Homo sapiens: one gene and its partners. The protein of the gene in region 1 purifies or fractionates together with the protein of each later gene. This does not show direct contact. Each region holds a gene or a part of one and is shown in the gene's direction. Other genes may lie near its edges.

Region 1 (3,699 bases):
ATGTACTCTGGTTACCAGAATGAAAAAACAAAAAGAGATACATACATAGTAAGGAAACATGAAATTGGAGGAATTGATCCCCATGTGTATTGCAGCTTCATATACCAGTAGTCTCTAATAAGTCATTGCTTTAATAAAAAAAAAAATAGAAAATTTAAATTTTATTTGCCCGGTAGCACAGGGATAGCTATGTTGACTAAGCGCAGATTTTAACGTATATGTTTGTTGATATATTTAGTTTTCAGATACCAGTTCAGTCCTACAATTATGGCGAAACTAGATGGCATATAAAATCATTTTGTTGCTTTGTTGAGGCTTGTTTTTTTCCTTATTTTCAGCAATATTTTCCTTCTTTCCTTTCACTGAAAAACAATGCAACTATTTTATTTTGAACAATGGAAGCTGTAATGGCAACTGGGGTAGCTATTCAAAAGTGGAGATGACGATGTCCCTTAATATTATAACAGTTATCTGTGAACACAAAAATTTTTACCCTATGATTTTCTTTGTTATTGTCTACTAATGCTGAATATTTATAAGACATTACATTTTGAATCTTTATTGATGTTTCCTAGTCTTTAGAAAATTTTACCGTCATGGGCTAGCATTCTTTTACATGGCATTTAGATTTCCAGGATGTTCTTTGTATTTTTTGTTTGTTTGTTTGTTTTGTTTGTTTTAGACTTTCAGGATGGATAATTACTTTATTGCTATATTGTAAAAATTATATTCTCTAGGGAATTTTACCTGTTTAAAAAATTGTCTCAGTTTTCATACATGGGAAGGATGAATAGTTTTAGGTTCTTTTGAATTTTGAATGGATAATTTTTGCCTAAACTTTTAAACAGGAAATCGGTATTTAAAGTATATTTCATAAAGTGATAATGGCATTTTGCATTTTAAATGCAGAAGATAAACAATAGGTTTATGGCATTTAAAAATGTGCTTTATGTAGCATTTTTGAAGTTAAAAAAACTGCCTGTAATAGCGAACCTAGTGTAGTTCACTAGCATTCAATCTACAATGTTGGCAATTTCTTTGAACTGATGGGGAGAGGACCAGTTAGACTGGCTTTTAAGAATTTTTATTGTCATCAGTGGATTCTTTGTCATTATTTTGCTTCCAATATAGTTAGTTGGTGGTTACTTTTGATATCTGCAAAATATTGACCTGGCAAGAGGAATTGCCAAGGGCCAGAGAAGTGTATTGAATATACCTCAGTGTAGTTTATTGTTCCCAGCCTGTCTGCCTCTCCCTGTTGGCCAACATGGAAAATCAATAGACATCTACCAGTAAATCTAATAAGTAATGTTACCGTGTTCTGCAGTAACCTGCAATACTGAATACTGTTTGAGGATGTAGATTTACAGATCTATGGCATATTGGGATGAGGTGAAAATTATCTTGCTCTCCAAAGTCTCCTTTTGAAAATATTTTTTGATATCACCTTATTTTACTTGGGGTACTATAACAAAATACCATACATTGAGGTGGCTTAAAACACAGACGTATTTTCTCACAGGTCCGGGGCTGGAAGTCTGAAATCAGCTAAGCACCTGCCCTCTCAGCTGTCTTCTCCCTGGGCACTCTTAAGTCCTTTCCTCCCTGTCTGCAGGTGAAGTGGGAGGGAGGGGAGGGAGAGGTGAGGATGTCTTTTTCTTTTCTACTTAAAAGGGCACAAATCCCGTCATGAGAGGGTCTCACTCTTAGGACCTAATCTAAACCTAATTACTTCCCAAAGGTCCACCTCTAATAGCCATCACACTGGGAGGTTTGGACTTCAACATGTGAATTTTGGGGGTACACAGATCTTCAGTCCATAACATAAACTTTGTGAAAGAAATTAACGTTAATTATTTACCTCCTCTACTAGGCACTATGCTAAGTATTATTTTGTGAAATCCTCACAATAAGCGCTTCATATAGGTATTCTGCCTGTTTTCAAATGAAGAAACAAAGACCTTAGGTTAAGTCATTGTTTCCAGGGACCGACCTCTGTGGTAACATTGACATTCCAGTTTAGGCATTCAAACCACTACTCTACACTGTCTCCATGAGGATGAGATGTTAAAAAGTCAATGTTACTGTCTGCACTCTATAAACAATGAGTGAGATATTAGAAAAGCTCATCAAAATGCGATTTAAAGTACATTGAACTGGTTTTACTACATTAAAAGATTGCAGTATATAAAATATGTAAGGTAGGACATGTTGCTCAAAATGAATTAAAAATCAAGATGCTAAAAAAATTTAAAACATTTATATGGGCGAGGCATGGTGGCTCACGCCTGTAATCCCAGCACTTTGAGAGGCTGAGCCGGGCAGATCACAAGGTCAAGAGTTCCAGTCCGGCCTGGCCAACATGGTGAAACCCGGTCTCTACTAAGAATACAAAAATTAGCTGGGCACGGTGGTGCATGCCTGTAATCCCAGCTACTCGGGAGGCTGAGGCAGGAGAATTGCTTGAACTTGGGAGGCAGAGGTTGCAGTGAGCCAAGATCGCACCATTGCACTCTAGCCTGGCGACAGAGCAAGACTCTGTCTCGGGGGAAAAAAATTATAGATTTTTTGAATAAATAATAAATAAAAATAAAATAATAAATATTTTTTGTCTACCTTTTTTTTTTCTTTTTTTTTTTTTGAGACGGAGTCTCTCCCTCAGTTGGCCCAGGCTGGAGTGCAGTGTTGCAGTTGCGTGATCTCAAGCTATTCTCGTGCCTCAGCCTCCGGAGTAGCTGGGACCACAGGTGGTGTGAGCTTCCACGTCCAACTAAATTTTGTATTTTTAGTAGAGATGGGTTTTCACCATGTTGGCCAGGCTGGTCTCGAACTCCTGACCTCAGGTGATCTGTGCACCTCGGTCTCCCAAAGTGCTGGGATTACACGTATGAGACACCGTACCCGTGCTTCTCTACCTTTTAATAACACATTTTTGTTTCTTTTTATGCATTTGTTAGTGTAAATATGTTCAAGAATACTCTACATTTTGTGTACATGTTTGTAAACAAGGGAAAAGGACCCAAAGATAATTTCTCTTTCATTGTATTCTAGTTCAGTTACTAACTTTGGCCTTCTCAAGTCATATTAATCTACTATTCTTATAATTGATGGGTAATGTTTGTTATTAGTATGTGTTAATATTCAATAATGTAAACAACGTTGGTAAATACTTGTGAGAAATTTTTTTTTTTTTTGAGATGGAGTCTCACTCTGTTGCCCAGGCTGGAGTGCAGTGGCGTGATCTTGGCTCACTGCAACCTCCGCCTCCCGGGTTCAAGTGATTCTCCTGCCTCAGCCTCCCGAGTAGCTGGGATTACAGGCGTGCACCACCATGTCCAGCTAATTTTTGTATTTTTAGTAGAGATAGGGTTTCACCATGTTGGCCAGGCTGGTCTTGAGCTCCTGACCTCATGATCTGCCTGCCTTGGCCTCCCAAAGTGCTGGGATTACAGGTGTGAGCCACTGCACCTGGTCTATACTTGTGAGAAACTATCAAGTAACAGCATTGAAGCCCTTATCACTCCAAATTTAGACTTGCTCTTCTTTAAATTAGTTAATATGTGTTTTTTAGTATTATTTTAGAATAAACATTTTTTGAAGTATAACAACTTAGATTTTAGTATTTTATATTATTGACTTGTAATGTTATTTCTGGTGGAAAAAGAAGCTTTTCATTGAGTATGTGTGTGTGTGTTTGTG
Region 2 (3,699 bases), on another chromosome or scaffold:
TTAGTCTGTTTTGGGGGGGATCACAGGGCACTAGCCTTGTACAAAGGTATCCCAAGAACCAGGAATTTATTCCAAGTGAATGAGATTCCTCTTAGCTGGGTTGGGTGTGTGCCTGTAGGGCATCTGTGTCCTGGGCAGTGTATGTGGACTAGAGAGAGTGCAGTGGGTGCAGCCTCGCAAAGGGGACTTGACTCTCAGAACCAGAGTCCCCCTGAGCTTTGGGCTTTCATGAATATGTTCAGAAAATTTTATCAGGGTGCATCAAGACAGATACAGTTTGTTCACACACATAGCCAAAGCTATCAATATGTTATTTTACACGCAAAAGGGAATGAAGGTTGTTAATCAGCTGGCCTTGCAATAGGGAGAGTAGCCTGATTTATCCAGGTGGGCCCAATATAATCACAGGGTCCTTAAAAGTGGAAGAGGGAGGTAGAAGAGGAGCTTATAAGGATGTGATATGAGAAGGACATGATCTGCAGTACCTGGCTTTGAAGATGGGAGAAGGGGACCATCAGCAAAGGAGTGCCCATGGTCTCTAGGAGCTGGTAAAGGCAAGAAAACACATTTTCCCCTGGAGCCTCCAGAAGGGAGCACAGTCCTGCCAACCTTAATTTTAGCCCAGTCAATCCTGTGTAGCGCTTCTAAATTATAGAACTATAAGATAATACATTTGTGTTGTTTCAAGGCACTGAATTTATATTAATTTGTTATAGCGGTAATAGAAAACTAACACAGAATATGTTGTGTACTATTTTGGATTTGACTTTTTTCTCTCCAGAGGTGGAAATATGTATATAATTTAAAATGCTTAGGTCTTTTTACAGACCTAAAGTTTGATATTAAAATTGGCTAGGCGTGGTGGCTCATGCCTGTAGTCCCAGTACTTTGGGAGGCTGAGATGGGTGGATCACCTGAGGTCAGGAGTTTGAGACCAGCTGGCCAACATGGCGAAACTCCATCTCTACTAAAAACACAAAAATTAGCTGGGTGTTGTGGGTGCCTGTAATCCCAGCTACTTGGGAGGCTGAGGCAGGAGAATCGCTTGAACCTGGGAGGCGGAGGTTGCAGTGAGCCGAGTTTGCGCCACTGCACTCGAGCCTGGGTGGCAGAGTGAGACTCCATCTCAAACAAAAAAATAATAAAATAGTTATACTTGGTTAATTTAAAATCTGTCGTAGTTAGTATGCATTTACCAATTAAATTACCTTTGAAATGTTTTAAAACTGTTATAAATTGGTCTACCAAATGCCGAAATAGAAGGAATCACATTTGTTTTGTGCAATTTATGAGAGCTGAGAAAAACTTGTACAGAAGGAACCATTGAAAAGAGAGATAGAACAAAGATGTTTTCTGGACATGATGTTCACTCACCACTATTAAGCAGATGGAAGAATTCACTGAATTGATACTTTTGACCACCTCTTATGCTCATGTGGTAGGGTGGGAGTGAGGAGAAGGTGGAGATGACTGAGACAAGAGTTCCCACCCTGAAGAAGCGAATCATTTTATAGGCAGAATGGCACAGAACGGATGTAACTACAGAGCACATGGAGTGAGAGGTTCCAGGCAAATGCTGTAGACCCAAGACAAGGGAAAATCACATCCAGGGTTGAGGAAAGCTTTAGGAACAATGGGGCAATTGAGACAGGCCCTGAAGGATACTGAGGGTAGGGAGTGATGAGCTAGTGTTTTTTAATAGTGATCTCCAAGATGTTAATATCTTAGGTGCTTTTTCTGGGGAGCTTCTGTTCTTCTGGGGAGCCTCCTCAGTCCCTTGCCTGATAATTGGCTGTTGGTGTATTCTGAGGGGGAGAGAAAAAAAGGGGCCAGCACTCATTCAGTGTATAGGCTCCTAATCTTGCATGTTTTCAGCCTCACCTTTTCCTCTTTTAGGCTAGCGATTGTGAGTTTAGAACCCTTCTGGTTAATTTCCTTTAGAGAACAAACATTCTCTGTCCTCTCAAGGTGAAGGAGAGGCCCTGTGGGGTCTGACTGCTTCTAACAGAGACTTCTGTTAGTCTCTGTTTTCAGCCTCCTTCTCACCTCCACTTTCCATGGTTCCTGGGTTGTCTTCTCCTTGATTACCCCCACTGCAGGTGTGTAAGCTTCCATTCTCTCCCTCTAAATCAGGTATTTTCTTGTGCTTTCAGTTCCCCCCAAATTTGTTTAATCCTTCCTATGCTATTGTCTCCTTGTTCTTATTCTCACAGCTGATTCTGTTCTTAATTCCTAACTGTCTTTTTGAGGGGGTTTTAGGAGAGGTTATGCCCACAATAAGCCCTTTACATCTGAACATAATGAAGATCCATAAGCAGAAGAAGCAGTGAGAGCTCTGATTCTTGTTTTTTAACCTTTCTTTTTAAAACAGCAAATAATAGGCTGGGCACAGTGGCTCCCGCTTGTCATCTCAGCACTTTGGGAGGCCGAGGTGGGTAGATCACTTGAGGCCAGGAGTTTGAAACTGGCCTAGCCAACATGGCAAAACTGTCTCTAATAAAAATACAAAAATTAGCTGGGCCTGGTGGCACGTGCCTGTAATCCCAGCTACTCGGGAGGCTGAGGCAGGAGAATCACTTGAACCTGGGAGGCGGAGGATACAGTGAGCCAAGATTACGCCACTGCACTCCAGCCTGGGTGACAGAGCAAGACTTGGTCTCAAAATGATAAGTAAAATAAAACAGTAAATATTTCTTAAAAACAGAAGTGCTTGACTGTTTGATATCCATAGAATCTGATATTAGAGTTAATTCTGTGTGATAGGTTTTCCTTCAGAACTGCAAATCATTTCTTTTTTTTCCTTTCAAATCATTTTTGTAGAGCAAAGACTAGCTCTTTTGCTCTTGACAATTCATGAACTTCCTTTAAGATATTTTATTCTATGGAATAATCTATAAATCAGACTTCTTTTCTAATTTTTTAAACTTCTGAAAATGCTTTAAAAACTATATGTATGTATTTTTTTAAATACAGAGTCTCGCTCTGTCGCCCAGGCTGGAGTGCACTGGAGCAATCTCTGCCCACTGCAGCCTCCGCCTCTTGGATTCAAGTGATTCTCCTGCCTCAGCCTCCCGAGTAGCTGGGATTACAGGCACACACCACCACGCCCAGCTAATTTTTATATTTTAGTAGAGATGGGGTTTCACCATGTTGGCCAGGGTGGTCTGGAACTCTTGACCTCAAGTGATCCTCCTGCCTTGGCCTCTCAAAGTCTTGGGATTACAGGTGCGAGCCACCATGCCCGGGCAACTTTTTTTGTTTTGTTTTGTTTTGTTTTGTTTTGTTTTGAGACAGGGTCTTGCTCTGTTGCATAGGCTGGAATACAGTGGTGCTGTCTCAACTCACTGAAGCCTCTGTCTCCAGGGCTCAAGCAATCCTCCTGCCTCAGCCTCCCGAGTAGCTGGGATTCCAGGCATGTGCCACCATGCGCAGCTAACTTTTTTCTATATTTTTTGCAGATACGGGCTTCTGCCATGTCGCCCAGGCTGGTCTCAGACTCCTGGACTCAAGCCATCCACCTGCCTTGGCCTCCCAAAGTGTTGGGATTACAGGCATGAGCCACCACGCCTGGCCTAAAAACTTTTATCTGTGAATTTTCTATTTCTTCCTCCCACTGGGTTTTCATCTCTAGCCAGTCACTATATTTGACTTGCTGATTTGTATTTTCTTTTTAGGATTTTACAGTTTTTGGAGGCAGTC
Region 3 (3,699 bases), about 13 Mb from region 1:
GACCCCCATCTCAAAAAAAAAAACAAAAAAACAAAAAAAAAACAATGAGGAACTGAGGGTTGGAGGCAAAGTGTCACTTTCTAGAGGTCACACCATGAGGTGCAGGTCAGGGAGGGGCAGCCCCAGGAGCTGCCGGGTGACCTGGGCAGGCACCTCCCCATTTGGCAAGGTGAGGAGGATGTTTGTCCACCCTTCCCTCTGCAGAAAGCTGCTCTGAGCCTCATGTGACCTTACAATTGTGTGAGGGCTTTTTAAGCCACCAAGCATGTTTTGGGAGAGAGTGGCTGTTGGATCACTGGGGTGTTGAGGACAGAGCTGGATGGGAGGCAGACAGACCTGCTGTGAGTCCTTGTTAACTGGGTGACATCACTGAGCCTCAGTTTCCCTCCTTTGTAAAAGGGGGTTAAGAACAGGACCAACCTCAGAGGGCCGAGGTAAGAGTCTGATGAGCTAATTGCTGACATGCAGTGTGATTGTCAGTGCTGTTATTATTGCATTCTTGTTTTCATGTAGGGTGCCTGGGGACCTGGAGAGATGTGTCTTGGTGGAAGATAAGGGCCATGTTGCCCATGCACATTGGGGAAGGATCAGTGTGACTGTTAGTGAGGGTTTTCTTTGCTGGAAATGGTGGGGCAGGGCAGGGACAGTCATGGGTGAGGGCATTTCAATTCCAGTTGGAAAGAATCCTAGAGATTGGTTTTTCCCTGTGCCTTCACAGATGAGGCCACTGAGGCCCACACTGGGTGAATGACCTGTTCGAGGTCACACAGCCACTTAGAGAGTGATCAGTACTCTCAAATCCCAGCCCAGTGCTCTCCAAGCCTCTCAGCTGGGCTCACTCTCCCAGGACCCCCAGGACAACTAGGGCAGTGGGTTTCATGTGTGGATGAGTGAGGGCCCTGAACTGGGAGGCTGCTTTGCTTTTCAGACATGTATGACCAGGTGCTGAAGTTTGGAGCCTACATCGTGGACGGCCTTAGACAATACAAACAGCCCATCCTGATCTATATCCCGCCCTATGCGGAGCTCCGGGGAGGCTCCTGGGTGGTCATAGATGCCACCATCAACCCGCTGTGCATAGAAATGTATGCAGACAAAGAGAGCAGGTGGGTGTGTTGCCCTTAGCCTGGCTTAGCCTTTTCTTGTTCTCCCAGCCTTGAGAGCCCATGACCTTGGGAGATCATGGAGGGATGCAGTGGCTGGAACCTGTAAGTGGTGGAGAAATGTTGTCTCTTCTTTCATGGTTTCCACTTCCCCTTCCCAAGGAAGTTTGCAATCAAAAAATAAAAAGGAAAGACCAAAAGCACTTGAACTTCCTGGCAGCCAGGATGAAAAGGGAAATATGATGAGCCATTTATCTCTCATTAGACTCTGAGCTATGAGTTCCTATAGGAAATGTTTTATTCAGTTTTATATCCCAGGGTCTAGCACAGTGCCTTACTCTCCTGGTAGGTGGTCAGAAAATACTGGCTAAACAAATGACTGAATGAATACTTGCATGAGAGGATACCGGTTCTTCGCGGGAGAGGTAACCTCCTTGGCACTTTCCTTAGGAGGAATTTATTCCAGAGATTCTTACAGAAAGGATGATGACAATAATGTTCACAGCACAGTGACTGATGACTTTGAAGTGAAAACTACATGCTACACAGGATGTCAAGGCCTCAAGAGTCATTCTACTCCAAATATAGGCACGGCATTCCTGTGTTCACTCCCTCATTCATTTGCTAATTCAATGAATATCCATTGATTACCTCACTGTATGCCAGCCATTCTGGTAGACATTATGATATGGTGGCAAATGGGCCAAGCTTGTCCTGCATTCAGGGCACTTAGACCCTTGTTAGGGACTGCTGAGGTCAGTCCTCCAGGAAGACTCAGGATACTGAGCAGCACTTGAATGGAGTCATTGCTAACTTTTCATGCTGGCCACCAGGAAGCTCAGAGCTACTGATAGCATTCTTCAGGGCTTCTAAGCTGTCAAAAGCAAAAGGGGGCAGGGGGAGAATAAGGGGTAAATAAAAATGTTGGAAATGAGGCCAGGCGTGGTGGCTCACGCCTGTAATCCCAGCATTTTGGGAGGCTAAGGGGGGCAGATCACTTGAGGCCAGGAGTTCAAGACCAGCCTGGCCAACACAGTGAAACCCCGTCTCTACTAAAAATACAAAAATTAGCTGGGCATGGTGGTACACGCCTGTAATCCAAGCTGCTCGGGGGGCTGAGGCAGGAGAATCACTTGAACCCGGGAGGCAGAGATTGTAGTGAACCGAGATAGTGCCACTGCACTCCAGCCTGGGTGACAGAGTGAGACCCTGTCTAAAAAAAAAACAAAAAAAAAAAAAAAGAAAGAAAAGAAAATGTATGTTGGAAATGGGAGGACAGCTCACACAAGACTACACTGGGCTCTCAAGGTGCTTTTGTGAGATTTAAAGCGATCAGAAACAGTGCCCCTCCTCTAGGAGGGCAGAAATTAGCAAAGTTAGAGAGGACTGTGGCTGGAGAGCAGGAGGGTTATGCTGCCATGGAAAAAGTCGTACACTCTTAGACCTGAAAGGGGCCCTCCAGAGTTCAGAAAGCATTATTTTAAACAGTTGGCTCAGTCTTTCCATCTGTGGGTAAAGATACAGAGGCCCAGAGAGGGAAAGTGACTTGTCTAAGGGCACACAGCATGTGTGGGGGTAAAAGAGCTGAGGACTGACACCCAGATCTTCTGGCTCTCTTCCCTCCAGCTCCCCCCACATCCATTAGCCCTTGCTTGCTGGGCAATGCCTCATATACCCCCATCCCTGCCTCTTCTCTTTTAAGGGGTGGTGTTCTGGAACCAGAGGGGACAGTGGAGATTAAGTTCCGAAAGAAAGATCTGATAAAGTCCATGAGAAGGATCGATCCAGCTTACAAGAAGCTCATGGAACAGCTAGGTAAGGGGGTCCCAAAGGCTTCACCTCTCAGAGGTCAAGAGAGGCCCAGCTGGCCCACTGCTGGGGGTTTCTAGGATGTTAAAAATAAAATGAAAAAATACCAAAATACAGCTATAATAACTGTGAGATTTTTAAAGATATTCACATTTGTCTGTTTGTTTTGTTTTGTTTTTTTGAGGTCTGGCTCTATTGCCTAGGCTGGAGTGCAGGGTGCAATCTCAGCTCACTGCAACCTCTGCCTCCCAGGCATAAGCCATCCTCCCATCTCAGCCTGAGTAGCTGGGACTACAAGTACGCAACACCATGCCTAGCTAATTTTTGTATTTTTGTAGATGTGGGGTTTCGCCATGTTGCCCAGGCTGTTCTCAAACTCCTGGGCTCAAGCAATCCACCTACCTCAGCCTCCCAAAATGCTGGGGTTACAGGCATGAGCTACCATGATTGGAGGACATTCACATTTCTAAATCAACCTTTTTAACATTATATATATATATATATATATATATATATATATTGCCATCGTGAATTTATTTCTCAGCATACACAAAAGATAGCAATTGAAGTATTTGGGGCTGATGGGGATTATCAGAATTTTGGTGGCAAAATGTTCCTTTAGAATTCCCAATCAGAGATAAGATATTTTACTAATTTTGTTTGAATGACAGCTTTGTTTTACTTGTCATCTTTAGATGTAATTATCTTTATTTATTTATTTGTTTATTTTTGAGACAGAGTCTTGCTCTGTTGCCCAGGCTGGGGTGCAGTGGCGCAATCTCAGCTC
Region 4 (3,699 bases), on another chromosome or scaffold:
CTGCTCAGCCTCCCGAGTAGCTGGGATTACAGGAACCCACCATCGTGCCCGGCTAATTTTTGTATTTTAGTAGAGATGGGGTTTCATCATGTTGGCCAGGCTGGTCTTTAACTCCTGGCCTCAGGTTGTTCCTCCCACCTCGGCCTCCCTAAGTGCTAGGATTACAGGCATAAGTCTCTGAGCCCGGCCATTTTTTTGTATTTTAGTTGAGACAGGGTTTCACTATGTTGACCAGGCTAGTCTTGAACTCCTGGCCACAGGTGACCTACCCGCCTCTGCCTCCCAAAGTGCTGGGATTACAGCCTTGAGCCACCGTGCCGGGCCTGTTTTATTTCAGAGGCAGGATCTCACTCTGTCACCCAGGCTGCAGTACAGTGGCACTATCATAGCTCACTGCAGTCTGGAATTCCTGGACTCAAGCTATCTTCCCACCTCAGCCTCTTGAGTAGCTGGGACTACAGATGTCCACTGCCATGCCTAGCTAATTTTTAAATTTTGTGTAGATGGGGTCTCACTATGTTGCCCAGGTTGGTTTTGAACTTCTGGGTTCAAGTGATCCTCCTACCTTGGCCTCCCAAAGCATTAGGTTTACAGGTGTGAGCCACTGCTCCTGGCCCGATGTGTTTGTCTAACAATTTTTTTTTATATTTGAGATGAAGTCTAACTCTGTTGTCCAGGCTGGAGTGCAATGGCGCGATCTTGGCCCACTGCAACATTCGCTTCCTGGGTTCAAGTGATTCTTCTGTCTCAGCCTCCCCAGTGACTGGGATTACAGGTGCCCGCTACCACGCCCGGCTAATTTTTTGTATTTTTAGTAGAGACGGGGTTTCATCATGTTGGCCAGGCTGGTCTTGAACTCCTGACCTCAGGTGATCCGCCTGCTTTGGCCTACCGAAGTGCTGGGATTACAGGTGTGAGGTCCCGCACCCGGCCTTTGTAACAATTTTTAATTCAAATGTATTTTGATGTAAGTAGAACCACACTGTAGATACTGTTTTATAGCCTGTCCTTTTGTTTTTTTTTATTTATTTATTTTATTTATTTATTTTTTTTTTGAGATGGAGTCTTGCGCTGTTGCCCAGGCTGGAGTGCAGTGGCACGATCTCGGCTCACTGCAGGCTCTGCCTCCTGGGTTCACACCATTCTCCTGCCTCAGCCTCCTGAGTAGCTGGGACTGCAGGTGCCCCCCACCATGCCCGGCTAATTTTTTTTTTAATTTTTAGTAGAGACGGGGTTTCACTGTTTTAGCCAGGATGGTCTCGATCTCCTGACCACGTGATCCACCCGCCTTGGCCTCCCAAAGTGCTGGGATTACAGGCGTGAGCCACCGCGCCTGGCCTTGTTTTTCCTTTAACATTGTATTTGATTGCTTGTCTAAAATTTCAACTTTTCAGGGCTGCCCCATCTTCCCTGTGGATGGCCCGTAATTTATTTAACCAGTGCCCCTTGTTGATGTATTTAGGTTATTTTAGTTCTGATGAACTAAAAATTATTCCTTTCTCCTATTTAAAGGAAAAAGGCTAGCCCTGTGGACTCCATGAGCTTTTTGCACCATTGGGTACATCCATATGGTGGAACGTCATGCGGGTTTAAAAAGCAGCGTATGTGAGGAATTTGAGATTGGAGCAGGATGGTGTGCTACAGTAGGAAATGGAAGAAGTAGAGTGTGTGCTGTGATCACAGCCTTATTTCCTCTGACTTCTAATTTAGAGAGCAAAATAAAGATATATACCAGTGTTAATAGTGGCTGTTGCAAAGTAGGGAGACATTGTTGGGTTTTTCCATTCCTTTCTGTTTCAGTTTTTCTTTTTATTTTTTTTTAAATGATCTTACTCTGTCACCCAGGCTAGAGTGCAGTGGCATGATTGCGGCCCACTTCCGCCTTGACCTCCTGGGCTCCGGTGATCCTCTGGAATGCTGGAATTATAGGCACACGCCACCACACCCAGCTAATTTTTTGTTTTGTTCGTAGAGATGGGGTTTTCTCCATATTGCCTAGGCTTATTTCAGTTTTTCTACATTTCCATTTGTTCCATAATGAGCCTCTGTTACTTTTTTTTGTTTTAAGAAACATGATCTCACTCTGTTGCCCAGGCAGACGTGCAGTGGCATGATCATATGTCACTGCAGCCTCAAACTCCTGGGCTCAAGTGATTCTCCTACCTCAGTCTCCCAAGTAGCTGGGATTACAGGGATGAGCCACCATGCTTAGCCAAAGCCTGTGTTTCTTTACCCATGTGGGCCTGCAGCTCAGAGCTGGGATCTGCAAGCATTTCTTTGGGCATCATACATTTCTTTTTTTTTTTTTTTTTTTTTTTGAGACAGAGTCTCGCTCTGTCGCCCAGGCTGGAGTGCAGTGGCGCAATCTTGGCTCACTGCAAGCTCTGCCTCCTTGGTTCACGCCATTCTTCTGCCTCAGCCTCCCGGGTAGCTGGGACTACAGGCGCCTGCTACCACATCTGGCTAATTCTTTGTATTTTTAGTAGAGATGGGGTTTCACTGTGTTAGCCAGGATGGTCTCTATCTCCTGACCTCGTGATCCGCCCACCTCGGCCTCCCAAAGTGCTGGGATTACAGGCGTGAGCCACCGCGCCCAGCCTGGGCATCAAACATTTCTAAGAAAACAGCCAAAGCAATCTTGCTGGAAGAATCACAGGGCATTTTATATTTTATCTTCACTCTCTCCCTCTTTTTTTTTTTTGCAAAGTATATGTTTTACTTTTTAAAAAATATGTTTTTAACAAGTTAGCACAAAGGCAAACCCAGGGGCCTAAATATATTTAAATCAAAGTTGAGCACAGCTGATATACTGTTGTCAGAGCTGCCCTTCATGCCTGTCAAAAAAATGGCATTGGCCAGGAACAGTGTCACATGCCTTTAGTCCTAGTGACTTGGGAGGCTGAGGTGGGACCATTGCTTGAGGCCAGGAGTTCAAGACCAGCCTAGGCAACATAGTGAGATGTTACCTCTACCAAAAAAAAAAAAAAAAATTAAAAAATTAGCCAGGCAGAGTGGCACATGCCTGCAGTCCCTGTTATCGCACCATTGCACTCTGCACTTTAGCCAGGGCAGCAGAGCAAGACCCTGTCTCTTAAATAAATAGGTCAGGTGTGGTGGCTCACACCTGTAATCCCAACACCTTGGGAGGATGAGGTGGGAGGATGGCTTGAGGTTAGAAGTTCGAGAACAGCCCAGCCAACATAGCGAAACCCCATCTCTACAAAAATACAAAAATTAGCCAGGTGTGGTGGCACATGCTTGTAATCCCAGCTGCTCAGGAGGCTGAGACATGACAATCTCTTGAGCCTGGGTGGAGGAGGTTGCAGTGAGCCAAGATTGCCCCACTGCACTCCAGCCTGGGCGACAGAGTAAAACTCTGTTTCGGATAGATAGATAGAGAGGGAGAGAGACAGAGAGAGAGAGACATGTAGGCCCTGCCTTGGAAAACTCTAAGGTCTAGCAGGAGGACAGACATGAGTCAGTAACAACCCAGATAATCAACTAGCAAGGGAGGACAGGTGCTGTGCAGAGAGAGCAGGAGCCATCTTGTTGGAGGGCCATTTGGACCTGGAGGGTTAATATTCAGGCAGAGATAATACATGGAGTATTGCTTTTATCAGAACAAGATTGTTCCCAGCTTACCGTACTGAAGCCTGCTGTGCGCACTTCGCAGTAGTCTCTTGAAATCTCTGGGGGCCA

What was found.
Region 2: the proteins of CDK17 (region 1) and PCCB purify together in Homo sapiens (affinity purification with mass spectrometry; one large-scale study listed by BioGRID and IntAct). This does not show direct contact.
Region 3: the proteins of CDK17 (region 1) and ACACB purify together in Homo sapiens (affinity purification with mass spectrometry; one large-scale study listed by BioGRID and IntAct). This does not show direct contact.
Region 4: the proteins of CDK17 (region 1) and SUGP1 purify together in Homo sapiens (affinity purification with mass spectrometry; 2 studies listed by BioGRID and IntAct, with this or other methods). This does not show direct contact.

The regions. Positions count from the first base shown.
Region 1 is NC_000012.12:96,393,741-96,397,439, reverse strand, and holds part of CDK17 (cyclin-dependent kinase 17), read left to right. Parts: intron 1-3,699. UniProt on the Homo sapiens protein: May play a role in terminally differentiated neurons. Has a Ser/Thr-phosphorylating activity for histone H1.
Region 2 is NC_000003.12:136,256,805-136,260,503, forward strand, and holds part of PCCB (propionyl-CoA carboxylase beta chain, mitochondrial isoform 1 precursor), read left to right. Parts: intron 1-2,371; coding exon of another isoform or gene 2,372-2,431; intron 2,432-3,674; coding exon 3,675-3,699. UniProt on the Homo sapiens protein: This is one of the 2 subunits of the biotin-dependent propionyl-CoA carboxylase (PCC), a mitochondrial enzyme involved in the catabolism of odd chain fatty acids, branched-chain amino acids isoleucine, threonine, methionine, and valine and other metabolites.
Region 3 is NC_000012.12:109,259,552-109,263,250, forward strand, and holds part of ACACB (acetyl-CoA carboxylase 2), read left to right. Parts: intron 1-513; coding exon of another isoform or gene 514-598; intron 599-928; coding exon 929-1,106; intron 1,107-2,805; coding exon 2,806-2,918; intron 2,919-3,699. UniProt on the Homo sapiens protein: Mitochondrial enzyme that catalyzes the carboxylation of acetyl-CoA to malonyl-CoA and plays a central role in fatty acid metabolism.
Region 4 is NC_000019.10:19,310,346-19,314,044, reverse strand, and holds part of SUGP1 (SURP and G-patch domain-containing protein 1), read left to right. Parts: intron 1-3,699.